Linked DNA regions of Homo sapiens. The protein of the gene in region 3 purifies or fractionates together with the protein of the main gene of each other region. This does not show direct contact. Each region holds a gene or a part of one and is shown on either strand. Other genes may lie near its edges.

Region 1 (3,652 bases), on a different chromosome or scaffold from region 3:
ATCACTTGGGCCCAGGAGGTCAAGGCTGCAATGAGTCATGACTGCACTTCCGCCCAGGTGAGGGAGAGACCCTGCCTCAAAACAAAACAAAACAAAAAAACCAAAAACCCAAAAAGACACAAAAAACACATATTAGCCTAGGCCTACACAGGGTCTGGATCTTCCACCTCCACATCTTGCCCCACTGGAAGGTATTCAGGGGCAACAACACACATGGAGCTGTCATCTCCTGTCACACCAATTGCCTTCTTCTGGATTCCTCCTGAAGAACCTGCCTGAGGCTGCTTTACAGTTGACTTTGTTTCTAGTAAGTAGGCAGAATATGCTCTTAAAAGTATAGCAAATACACAAAGTAGTAACAGTCGTTTATCATCAATTATTACGTACTGTATGGTACTGTACGTAACTGTAGGTGTATACTCTGGTATGACTGGGGCAGTAGGTTTGGTCACACCTACTGCAGCACCACAGACACGAGTAATACACTGCCCTCAACATGGTAGCTCCAACGTCACCAGGTGCCAGGAATTTTTCAGCACCATCATAGTCTTATGGGACCACTATCATATTGTGGTCTGTTGCTGACCAAACTGCATCCGGCAGCACAGGTACAGGCATGCCCAGATGGCCTTGGTAATTTCTGTCAGTGGGATCACAGCAAACACACTCAGTCTGTTGGTCAGGGAGTGTGCAGGAAGCCTGGGGGGCCAGCGGCATCTATTCCCAACTCAGGCATCATGCCAAGACAGTGTCTTCTAAACTCTGAGTAGGAACTGTTCTGGGTCATTTCACAGTCTTTCCTTTCAGAAAACAACAGAGAACTGGGAAACCAGAAGTCCCCGAGCAGGAAAAGCCTCAAAAGAGAGAATCGGCGGGGCACTGTGGCTCATGCTTGTAATCCCAGCACTGTGGGAGGCTGAGGCAGGGGGATCACCAGAGGTCGGGAGTTCGAGACCAGCCTGACCAACATGGAGAAACCCCGTCCCTACTAAAAATACCAAAAAAAATTAGCCAGGCGTGGTGGCGCGTGCCTGTAATCCCAGCTACTCGGGAGGCTGAGGCAGGAGAATCACTTGAGCCAGGGAGGTGGAGGCTGCAGTGAGCTGAGATCGCGCCACTGCACTCCATCCTGGGCAACAAGAGCGAAACTCCATCTCAAAAAACAAAAAAAGAGAGAAAATCACAACAATCAAGCCCAACCCAGAGCCCTTCACTCCCAGTTCCTCTGCTCCCCCAACTCCCATTCAAGTCACAGACTAGAAGACAGATACTGAGCGGCTACAGTCGCAAGCGCCTCAGGGGCAACTAGGACTGAAACTCTAGCACCAGAAGCACAGCAAGGCGGGTGAGGCCTCTCTGAGGGAAGGACCCCCACCACACGGCAACAACCCCTCACAGCCCATTACAAGTTAAACCAACCTAACAGGCAGGCATTCTCCTAAGACTTTCTAAACCATTCTAAGTATGACAGTTTCACACAAAACACGGTAGCCTCCAACTGGCTACTACAAACCATATCTAGATTTTTCTCTTTTAAGTACCCAGGGTTAGGTTGGGCACTAGTGGCTCATGCCTATAATCCTAGCACTTTGGGAGGCTGATGCGTGTGGATTGCTTGAGCCCATGAGTTCAAGACCAGCCTGGGCAACACAGCAATATTTCATGTCTACTAAAAATTTAAAAATTAGCTGGGCGTGGTGGCACATGCCTGTAGTCCTAGCTACTTGGGAGGTTGAGGTGGGAGAATCACCTGAGCCTGGGAAGTCGAGGCTGCAGTGAGCCATGATCACATCATGCACTCCAGCCTGGGCAATGGAGTGAGACCCTGTCTCCAACAAAAAAGGACCCAGAGCTATTGATATGCCCACTATCTTAACTGTGGCCATGGCTCCAAAGGTATGTCTGTGTAAATCAAAAGTTATAAAACCATACTGTATACTCTACATATGGAGCTAAGACACCCACTGACATAAAAATAATCGATTTGTAAAGAAATCCTCCCAAACAACACAAAAGCTCCGACTTTATAAAAATATTTTTGGCTGGGCACAGTGGCTCATACCTGTAATCCTAGCACTTTGGGAGGCCAAAGCAGGAAGATCACTTGAGCCCAGAAGTTCAAGACTAGCCTGAGCAACACAAAGAGACCCTGTGTCTACAACCAACCAATCAATCAATCACCAGGTGTAGTGGTGCATGCCTGTAGTCCCAGCTATTCAGGAGGCTGAGGCAGGAGGATTGCTTAAGCCCAGGAATTTGAGGCTACAGTGAGCTATAATCATGCCCCTGAACTCTAGCTTGGGTAACAGCAGGACCCTGTCTCCAAAATACACACACACACACACACACACACACACACACACACACACACACACACTTTTAAGTGTACTGATGCAACCTCCCTCCCCCTTTATTGGCTAAAATTCAGTACATAATACCATTAAAGTACTAAAATAATAAGAACACACTAGAAAACAAGAAATTCAAAAAATTAGTTAACTTCCTGCCATTACCTCTATCCAAAGGCCCATCACTAAAGTCAAGTCAGTTCTGCCCAGAGGAAGGGCAGATTCTCAGAAGGCAACCAAGAGACAAGAAACAGAAGCAGGGTCGGAGCGCGGGGCAGCGCTGCCGAGGCTCCACCTGTACAAGGTTTCTTGGTCTCTAAGCTGCTTGATTCGCCAAGTGCAGTAGGAGGGAGGGGGATGAAGGAACATTCTAAGAAGTTCTAAGACACCTCAGAAAAGGGCAGACTAGTTTTATTCCTTCACAGAGAAGAGGTGAAGCCTGGTTTTACTTTAAAGTAAACATGCCCAGTAGCTGAGGGCTACTTGGAGTGGCGGAGGAAGGAATGTGAATCACAGCACACGAAATGGAGCACTCAGAGCATCTGCTTTGTGCTGCCCCATGAGGCCTGCTCACCAAAGTGAGGAGCTCACAGAGGTGCAGCCCCTCATCCAAGCCAACGGCCTGGAGGTAGGAAAGTGAGGCAGGGGAAGTCTGATTCCCGAGTTGGACTCTTAGACATAAACAGATACCGCTTCTCTTGGGAGTTTTGCTGCAACAGCAGCACAGAGGAGAGAGAGCAGCTCCCAGTAGATTTTAACCAGGGCAACTGTATCCCCCAAAAAACATCCACCAAGACAGTTTTGCTTGCTACAACTGGGGATGGGGAGAAGGAGTTGCTAATGGCATCTAGTGGGTGGGAAGCCAGGGAGGCTGCTAAACATCCAACAATGCACAGGACAGCCCCCAAAACAGAATGTTCCCGTGCAAAATGTCCACAGTGCCAAGGCAGAGAAAGCCTGAATTACCTAAGAAAACAGGGCAGCTATGACTCACTGGGCCCTGCTGTATCAGGTACTGTCTCAGCGCTTTATGTGCACCATCTGATGTCATCCTCCCAACAATTCTACAAACAGTTACTACTCTCTCTCTTCTACAGAAAAGGAAATTGAGGCAAGAGAAGGCAAGCCATGGACACAGGCCAGTCAGTGGTGGAGTTAAAATTGAAACCAGGCTGGGCGCGGTGCCTCACGCCTATAATCCCAGCACTCTGGGAGGCCGAGGCGGGTGGATCACCTGAGGTCAGGAGTTTGAGACCAGCCTGGCCAACATGGTGAAACCCCGTCTCTACTAAAAATACAAAAAT
Region 2 (3,652 bases), on a different chromosome or scaffold from region 3:
AAAACTCCACACTTAGATCATGTTAACACTGCCATTTTCTGCACATGGCCTATGAAGAGCAATGTAGCTCAATTACGCTTGTGCAGAAACCTTGATTACCTCACCTTTCCTACCTGCCAATCACCTTTCCCCATGCTTTAGACCACCCTGCGTCCTACCCCACAAATACTGCCAAGCCCTATTTTCAGGGTGCCAGATTTGGGATTTGCTCTCCTGTCTCCTCATTCAGCAGCCCTATGAATAAAATCTTGTCTCTTTTGCAAAACCCATCATCATAGTGATTGGCTTGCTGCACGTGGGCAGGACGAACCTAGTTTGATATCATAACCATCATCACAAACAATTTTAGAACATTTTTAACACCCTGAAAAGAAACTCCATTCCCACTAGTAGTCCCTCTCCATTCCCTCCTCCTCCATAGTTCTAGTCAACCACTAATTTATTTTCTCTACAGATCTGCCCATTCTAGAAATGTCATAGAAATGGAATCATATGTATGTGGTCTTTTGTGACTGGCTCCTTCACTTATCATGTATTCACAATGAATCTCCTTTTCCTTTTAGTATAAAGTTTGTGCCACAATAAAAATATAAGAAAAAAAGAATAATAAAAGGACCACTAATAAGGATTAAATAAATCTAATTAAGATGACTCTTTATAAAATACAAATTAATAGATTTGAAGATGAAACCATCATAAGATGCAACAGAAAATAAACTAGGGTAAAACAAATGTGTCAGAGAAGATATTTTATAAAACAAATTGCTTGTCAAAGAGAGTATTTTCCCTAATAAAGATGTAGAACGTCAGACTGATTGACATTTTTTTTTTTTGAGACAGTCTCGCTTTTGTCCCCTAGGCTGGAGTGCAGTGGCTCGATCTTGGCTCACTGCAACCTCCGCCTCCCAGGTTTAAGTCATTCTCTTGCCTCAGCCTCCCGAGTAGCTGAGATTACAGGTGTGCACCATCATGCCCAGCTAATTTTTGTATTTTCAGTAGAGACAGGGTTTTACCATGTTGGCCAGGCTGGTCTTGAACTCCTGACCTCAAGGTGATCTGCCTGCCTCAGCCTCCCAAAGTGCTGGGATTACAGGTGTGCACCACCATGCCTGGCCTGATTGACTCTTAGAACCAGTTGGCAAAGATTATTGCTGGAGGGTGGCACACTAAGATCCAAGGTCTTATTAAAAGGAGAAATAGGCCTGGGAACCGCGGCTGACATGTGTAATTACAGCAATTTGGGAGGCCAAGGTGGGAGGATCTCTTAAGGTCGGGAGTTAGAGATCAGCCTGAGCAACACAGCAAGATCTAGTCTCTACAAAAAGTAGAAAAACTGGCCAGGTGTGGTGGTGTGACCCTGTAGTCCTAGCCAGTCAGGAGGCTGCAGCAGGAAGATCACTTGAGCCCAGGAGTTTGAGGCTGCAATGAGCTACAATCACGCCACTGCACTCTAGCTTGGGTGACAAGAGTGAGATGTCGCCTCCAAAAACATAAATAATAAGACAAAATTAAAATTAAAAAAAAATAAAAATCAGGGCTGGGCACAGTGGCTCACACCTATAATCCCGGCACTTTGGGAGGCCAAGGGGGAAGAACTGTTTGAGCCCAGGAGTTCCAGAACAGCCTGGTCAACATAGGGAGACCCTGTCTCTGCAAAACATTTAAAAATCAGCCAGACATGGTATCTCATGACTGTACCCCCAGGTGCACTCCAGCCTAGGGGACAGCTACTTGGGAGGACTGCTTGAGCTCAGGAATTCGAGGCAGCAGTGAGCTGTGATTGAGCCACTACACTCCAGCCTTGGCGACAAAGCAAGACCTCAACTCTAATGAATAAATAATCAGATTTCTAGTCTGTGCCCCAATCACTGGAGATGGGACCCTGTAAACTGGTGTTTTGTTTTGGTTTGGTTTTTGTTTTTTTGAGACAGGGTCTCACCCTGTCACCCAAGCTGGAGTGCAGAGGCACAATCACAGCTCACTGCAGCCTTGACCTCCTGGGCTCAAACGATCCTCCCATCTCAGCCTCTGGAGTAGCTGGGACTAGGGGCAGGCACCACCATACTCAGCTAATTTTTTTATTTTTAGTAGAGAGAGGGTCTCCCTATGTTGCCCAGGCTGATGAAAACTCTTGAGCTCAAGCAGTCCTCCCACCTTGGCCTCCCAAAGTGCTGGGATTACAGGCACGAGCCACCATGCCTATCCCCAACTGTATTTTTATTTTTATTTCATTTTTTTTTTGAGATGCAGTCTGGCTCTGTTGCCCAGGCTGTAGTGCAGTGGCACAGTCTCAGCTCATTGCAACTTCCGCCTCCCGGGTTCATGCAAGTCTCCTGCCTCAGCCTCCCAAGTAGCTGGGATTACAGGCATGCACCACCACGCCCAACTAATTTTTGTATTGTTGGTAGAGACAGGGTTTCACCACGTTGGCCAGGCTGGTCTCAAACTCCTGACCTCAGGGGATCCACCCACCTCAGTCTCCCAAAGTGTTTGGATTACAGGCGTGAGCCACCACACCTGGTCCCCAAGTGTATTTTTAATAAGCTGTCCAGGTGACTCTTATGAATACTAAAATTTGAAGACCAATATCTAATTAACACAAATTAATAGAATAGATTAAATGTGTATAAGTCAAGAGAGCTGGGTGCAGTGGCTCACGCCTGTAATCCCCCAGCACTTTGGGAGGCTGAGACGGGTGGATCACCTGAGGTCAGGAGTTCAAGACCAGCCTGGCCAATATGGTGAAACCCCATCTCTACTAAAATTACAAAAATTAGCCGGGCATGATGGCGTGCGCCTGTAGTGCCAGCTACTCGGGAGGCTGAGGCAGGAGAATCGCTTGAACCCGGGAGACAGAGGTTGCAGTGAGCTAAGATCACACCACTGAATTCCAGCCTGGGCAACAGAGCGAGACTCCATCTCAAAAAGAAAAAAAAAAAGTCAAGAGAATAGTGACAAGTACCTAACACATGAAAAAAAGGATGAAAAAAACAAAAAAGCCAGGCGTAGTGTTATATGCCTATAGTCTCAGCTACTCGGAAGGCTGAAGTGAGAGGATCACTTGAGCCCGGGAGATGGAAGTTCTACTGAGCCGAGATGGTGCCACTGCACCCCAGCCTGAGTGACAGAACAGGACCCGTCTCAAAAAGAAAAGAAAAGAAGAAAGTACTTAAAATGTTGGCACACTATACTCTCAAGAACTCAAAGTGATGTTTGAAACTTGTGCATTTGATTTTGATGTTGAAAAAACTAAATGTGTAAATATGCAAGCCATTCTAATGTCTGTGAAAAACACAGAGTATGATTTGTAAAGAACTCTTAATTAAATGTAAGATGGCATAGTATCAAGAGCATATGGTATTGCACCTAGTAGATTAACAAATGTTTGCTGGTGATGTTAACTATTTTTATAATGAGTACAGTTATATTTAATTATTTCCAGCCTAACCTCTGGTAACCTAAACAAAATCAAACTTTTTGCTGTGAATATCTTTACACAAGTAACAGCATAAAAAATTGTCAAATATTATGTCAGACGCTCATGTGTAAGTTCAGGGTCAGGGCACTTACTTTCAGACCAAATTAACCTCTGTTTTTATGCTCAGACTTACATAAACAAGGATAGGTAAAACCAAAGTTAAATTTCTCATGA
Region 3 (3,652 bases):
GTTTGTAAAGTAAGAATAAACCATCTATGAAAATGAATTCTATGAACAAAAGGAATAAGCTTTAGAAAGCTTGGACTTTGCAAAATATAGTCTTGTTTCAAACAGCTCTTTTTTGGCTTTTTAAAAACTCCTGGTCTGGTGTGGTGGCTCACACCTGTAATCCTAGCTCTTTGGGAGGCCAAGGTGGGCGAATCACCTGAGATTAGGAGTTCAAGACCAGCTTGGCCAATGTGGTGAAACCCCGTCTCTACTAAAAATACAAAAATAAGCCAAGAGTGGTGGTGTACACCTGTAATCCCAGCTACTCAGGAGTTTGAGGCAGGAGAACCTGGGAGGCAGAGGTTGCAATGAGCCGAGATCACGCCACTGCACTCCAGCCCAGGTGACAAGAGCAAAACTCCATCTCCAGAAAAAAGAAAAAAAAGAGGCCAAAAAGCTGCACTTGTTAAAATTGTTTGTAAAGGCCGGGCACACTGGCTCACGCTTGTAATCCCAGCACTTTGGGAGGCAAAGGCGGGTGGATCACCTGAGGTCAGGAGTTCAAGACCAGCCTGGCCAACATGATGAAACCCTGTCTCTACAAAAATACAAAAATTAGCTGGGCGTGGGGGCTCATGCCTGTAATCCCAGCACTTTGGAAGGCCAAGGCAGGAGGATCACGAGGTCAGGAAATCAAGACCATCCTGGCTAACACGGTGAAACCCTGTCTCTACTAAAAATACAAAAAATTAGCCGGGTGTGTGGCGGGCGCCTGTAGTGCCAGCTACTTGGAAGACTGAGGCAGGAGAATGGCGTGAACCCGGGAGGCAGAGCTTGCAGTGAGCCGAGATCACACCACTGCACTCAAGCCTGGGTGACAAAGCAAGACTCCGTATCAAAAAAAAAAAAAAAATTGTAAAGTAAAAATAAACCATCTATGAAAGTGAATTCTATGAATAAAAGGAACAAGCTTTAGAAAGCTTGAACTTTGCAAAATCTAATCTTGTTTCAAATAGCTCTTTTTTGGCTTTTTAAAAACTCCTGGTCAGGCATGGTGGCTCACACCTGTAATCCCAGCCCTTTGGGAGGCTGAGGTGGGCAAAACACCTGAGCTCAGGAGTTGGCGACCAGCCCAGGCAACATGGCGAAACCCTGTCTCTACAAAAAATACAAAAATTAGCAGAGTGGCTGTTACACACCTGTAGTCCCAGCTACTCAGGAGGCTGAGGCACGAGAATCGTTTGAGCCCTGGAGGCAGAGGTTGCAGTGAACTGAGATTGCGCCATTGCACTCCAGCCTGGGAGACAGAGCGAGACACTGTCTCCAAAAAAAAAAAAAAAAAAAAAAAAATTCTGACCCGTGTTGCATGTAGGTGAAGTTGATAGATTGGCTAAGATTTAGACAAGTAAATTGTTACAAGAGTAGTGAATTATCATACATACTTAAAAGCAACCATAGAAAAATGCTACTTTGTGGGAATTTTTCTCTGGGTATGATATTTTACTCTTTTACAAAATCAGAGTGGTTTTTATTATGAGCAACTAATTAGGAAACTAAGTTTGCATTAGGTACTATTTATGGACATATGTACCCTCTAGAACCATGTCTTATGACTGCCCACTGTTCTTAGTTTTGTTATAGTCTCCTCCCCTCCTCTCCGTGGTCCAGCTACATGCTGCATTTAGCTGGTTCCTTATTTTGATAAATATTTGCAGTAAATGTCATAAAACATTAACAACTGACCTATGAGGCCCTTCTGTGCTCAAAAATGCTCCAACTCAAAGCTCCGGGGCATTGCCTCACCCCACATACCCTTCCTCTTAAGCCCTGTAGCTCCACAATCACAGTCCTGCCCACCTGAGTGCTCAGAGTGTCTGTAGCTGGTCTGACAGGTCAGCCCGTTGGCTAAACAGCTCTTCCTCTAACCTCGCTGGAAGTGGCTCAGCAAAACTACAGACTGTACGTGTTGTCCTTACGTGTTGTCCTTGAAGAACAAAAATGTTGGGCACGGCGTTGTTGTTTCTTCTGCAGCAAGTTCCAAAGTATGTAAAACAGACTGAGTGACCATGAAGTCATGTGTCCCCTCAGCCCTATTCCTTATTTCACTTGTAAGAGAACATTAGCAATATTTGTACTGACCATTGGTTATGTATCCAAGGACACTATACTAGGGGCTGATGTGACTTTGAAAAGTACAAGGCAAGATAAGGAAGGTTACGGGTATGAGGTTACAGTCTTATCACCCAGATGGTTTATGATGAAAGCCATGCTGAATGCCAATGGCTGTGAGCTCACTCCTGACACACACTGTCATTTTCTCTTAGAATGGGACATCAGCGCTCCATGCAGCAGTGCTCAGTGGAAACATTAAAACAGTTGCGCTGCTCCTAGAAGCAGGGGCAGACCCATCCCTGAGAAACAAGGTACCCACTAAGCAATCTTTTAACTCGTTTGGGCCCATTGATGTGTCCTCCTAGGCCAGGAAGGATAAACATCTCCCTGGCTCCAGTCACCATCTTCATTCTTTGCATAGTAAGGGCATTCAAGGTTGCTGTTAGTAGGTGATTAGTGAGCAGTACAGTTGGACCCAGGAAATTCTACTGTTAATAAAAACCCTGACTCATATCAATGGTTTTTTTTTTTCTTTTTTAACAAACCCTTGTGTCAAGGGCTGACTTTCAATAGATTTTTGCAGCGAGGGAGGTGCTCTGCTATGTACGAAACCCTGACCCAGAAGCCGGTCATTTACAAATGGTTTAGCACCAGGTTCCCCATGGACGTGCGTTGTGTGATGGGTGAGGGCGCTATCAATGGTTTTCTTTTTTTCTTTGAGAGGGAGTCTCGCTCTGTCACCCAGACTGGAGTGCAGTGGCGTGATCTTGGCTCACTGCAACCTCCACCTCCCAGCTTCAAGCAATTCTTCTGCCTCAGCCTCCTGAGTAGCTGGGATTACCGGCGCAGACCACCATGCCCGGCTAATTTTTTTGTGTTTTAGTAGAGACGGGGTTTCACCATGTTAGCCAGGCTGGTCTTGAACTCCTGACCTCAAGTGATCCACCCACCTCGGCCTCCCAAAGTGCTGGGATTACACACATGAGGCACCACGCCCGGCCAGTGGTTATCAATGAACAGTGGTGCACTCTCCTGGTGGAGGCGAGGAAGAAAGGGAGAGCAGTTACTATGGGAGTATTGTTCTGTCATCTAAGATGTACCCTAAAAATGCCAAAATTCTGGTAGTTTATCACCATTCCCATAAGTTCGATGTTCATATCTTGAAAATTGCTTGTGCTATATTTGGTTGCTTTTGTATTGTTAACAGGAGTACATGCCACTGTTACAAAACAAACCCACTTTTTTCTAGTCCTAAATTCTTCATTTACAATTAGGCCAAACTTCGCGGTGGGTGGGTACACAATAAGAATTTTTTTAAATGATTGTCATTTTACTTCCTCCTCTTCAACATCTGCTTAAGCTGGCACATGTATAGATTGCAGCAGAGGAGAGTAGCCTAGGAAAGGTCTTGAGAGAATGCATGCGCCAGGCGCAAAGGCCCACTCCTGTAAACCCAGCACTTTGGGAGGCTGAGGCAGGTAGATTGCTTGAGCCCAGGAGTTCAAGACCAGCCTGGGCAACATGGCGAAGCCTGTCTCCACAAAAAATACAAAAATTAGCC

What was found.
Region 1: the proteins of ANKRD29 (region 3) and YTHDF1 purify together in Homo sapiens (affinity purification with mass spectrometry, with the first as the bait; one large-scale study listed by BioGRID). This does not show direct contact.
Region 2: the proteins of ANKRD29 (region 3) and TFCP2 purify together in Homo sapiens (affinity purification with mass spectrometry; 3 studies listed by BioGRID and IntAct, with this or other methods). This does not show direct contact.

The regions. Positions count from the first base shown.
Region 1 is NC_000020.11:63,209,632-63,213,283, forward strand, and holds part of YTHDF1 (YTH domain-containing family protein 1), read right to left. Parts: intron 1-3,652.
Region 2 is NC_000012.12:51,166,579-51,170,230, forward strand, and holds part of TFCP2 (alpha-globin transcription factor CP2), read right to left. Parts: intron 1-3,652.
Region 3 is NC_000018.10:23,610,842-23,614,493, reverse strand, and holds part of ANKRD29 (ankyrin repeat domain-containing protein 29), read left to right. Parts: intron 1-2,303; coding exon 2,304-2,402; intron 2,403-3,652.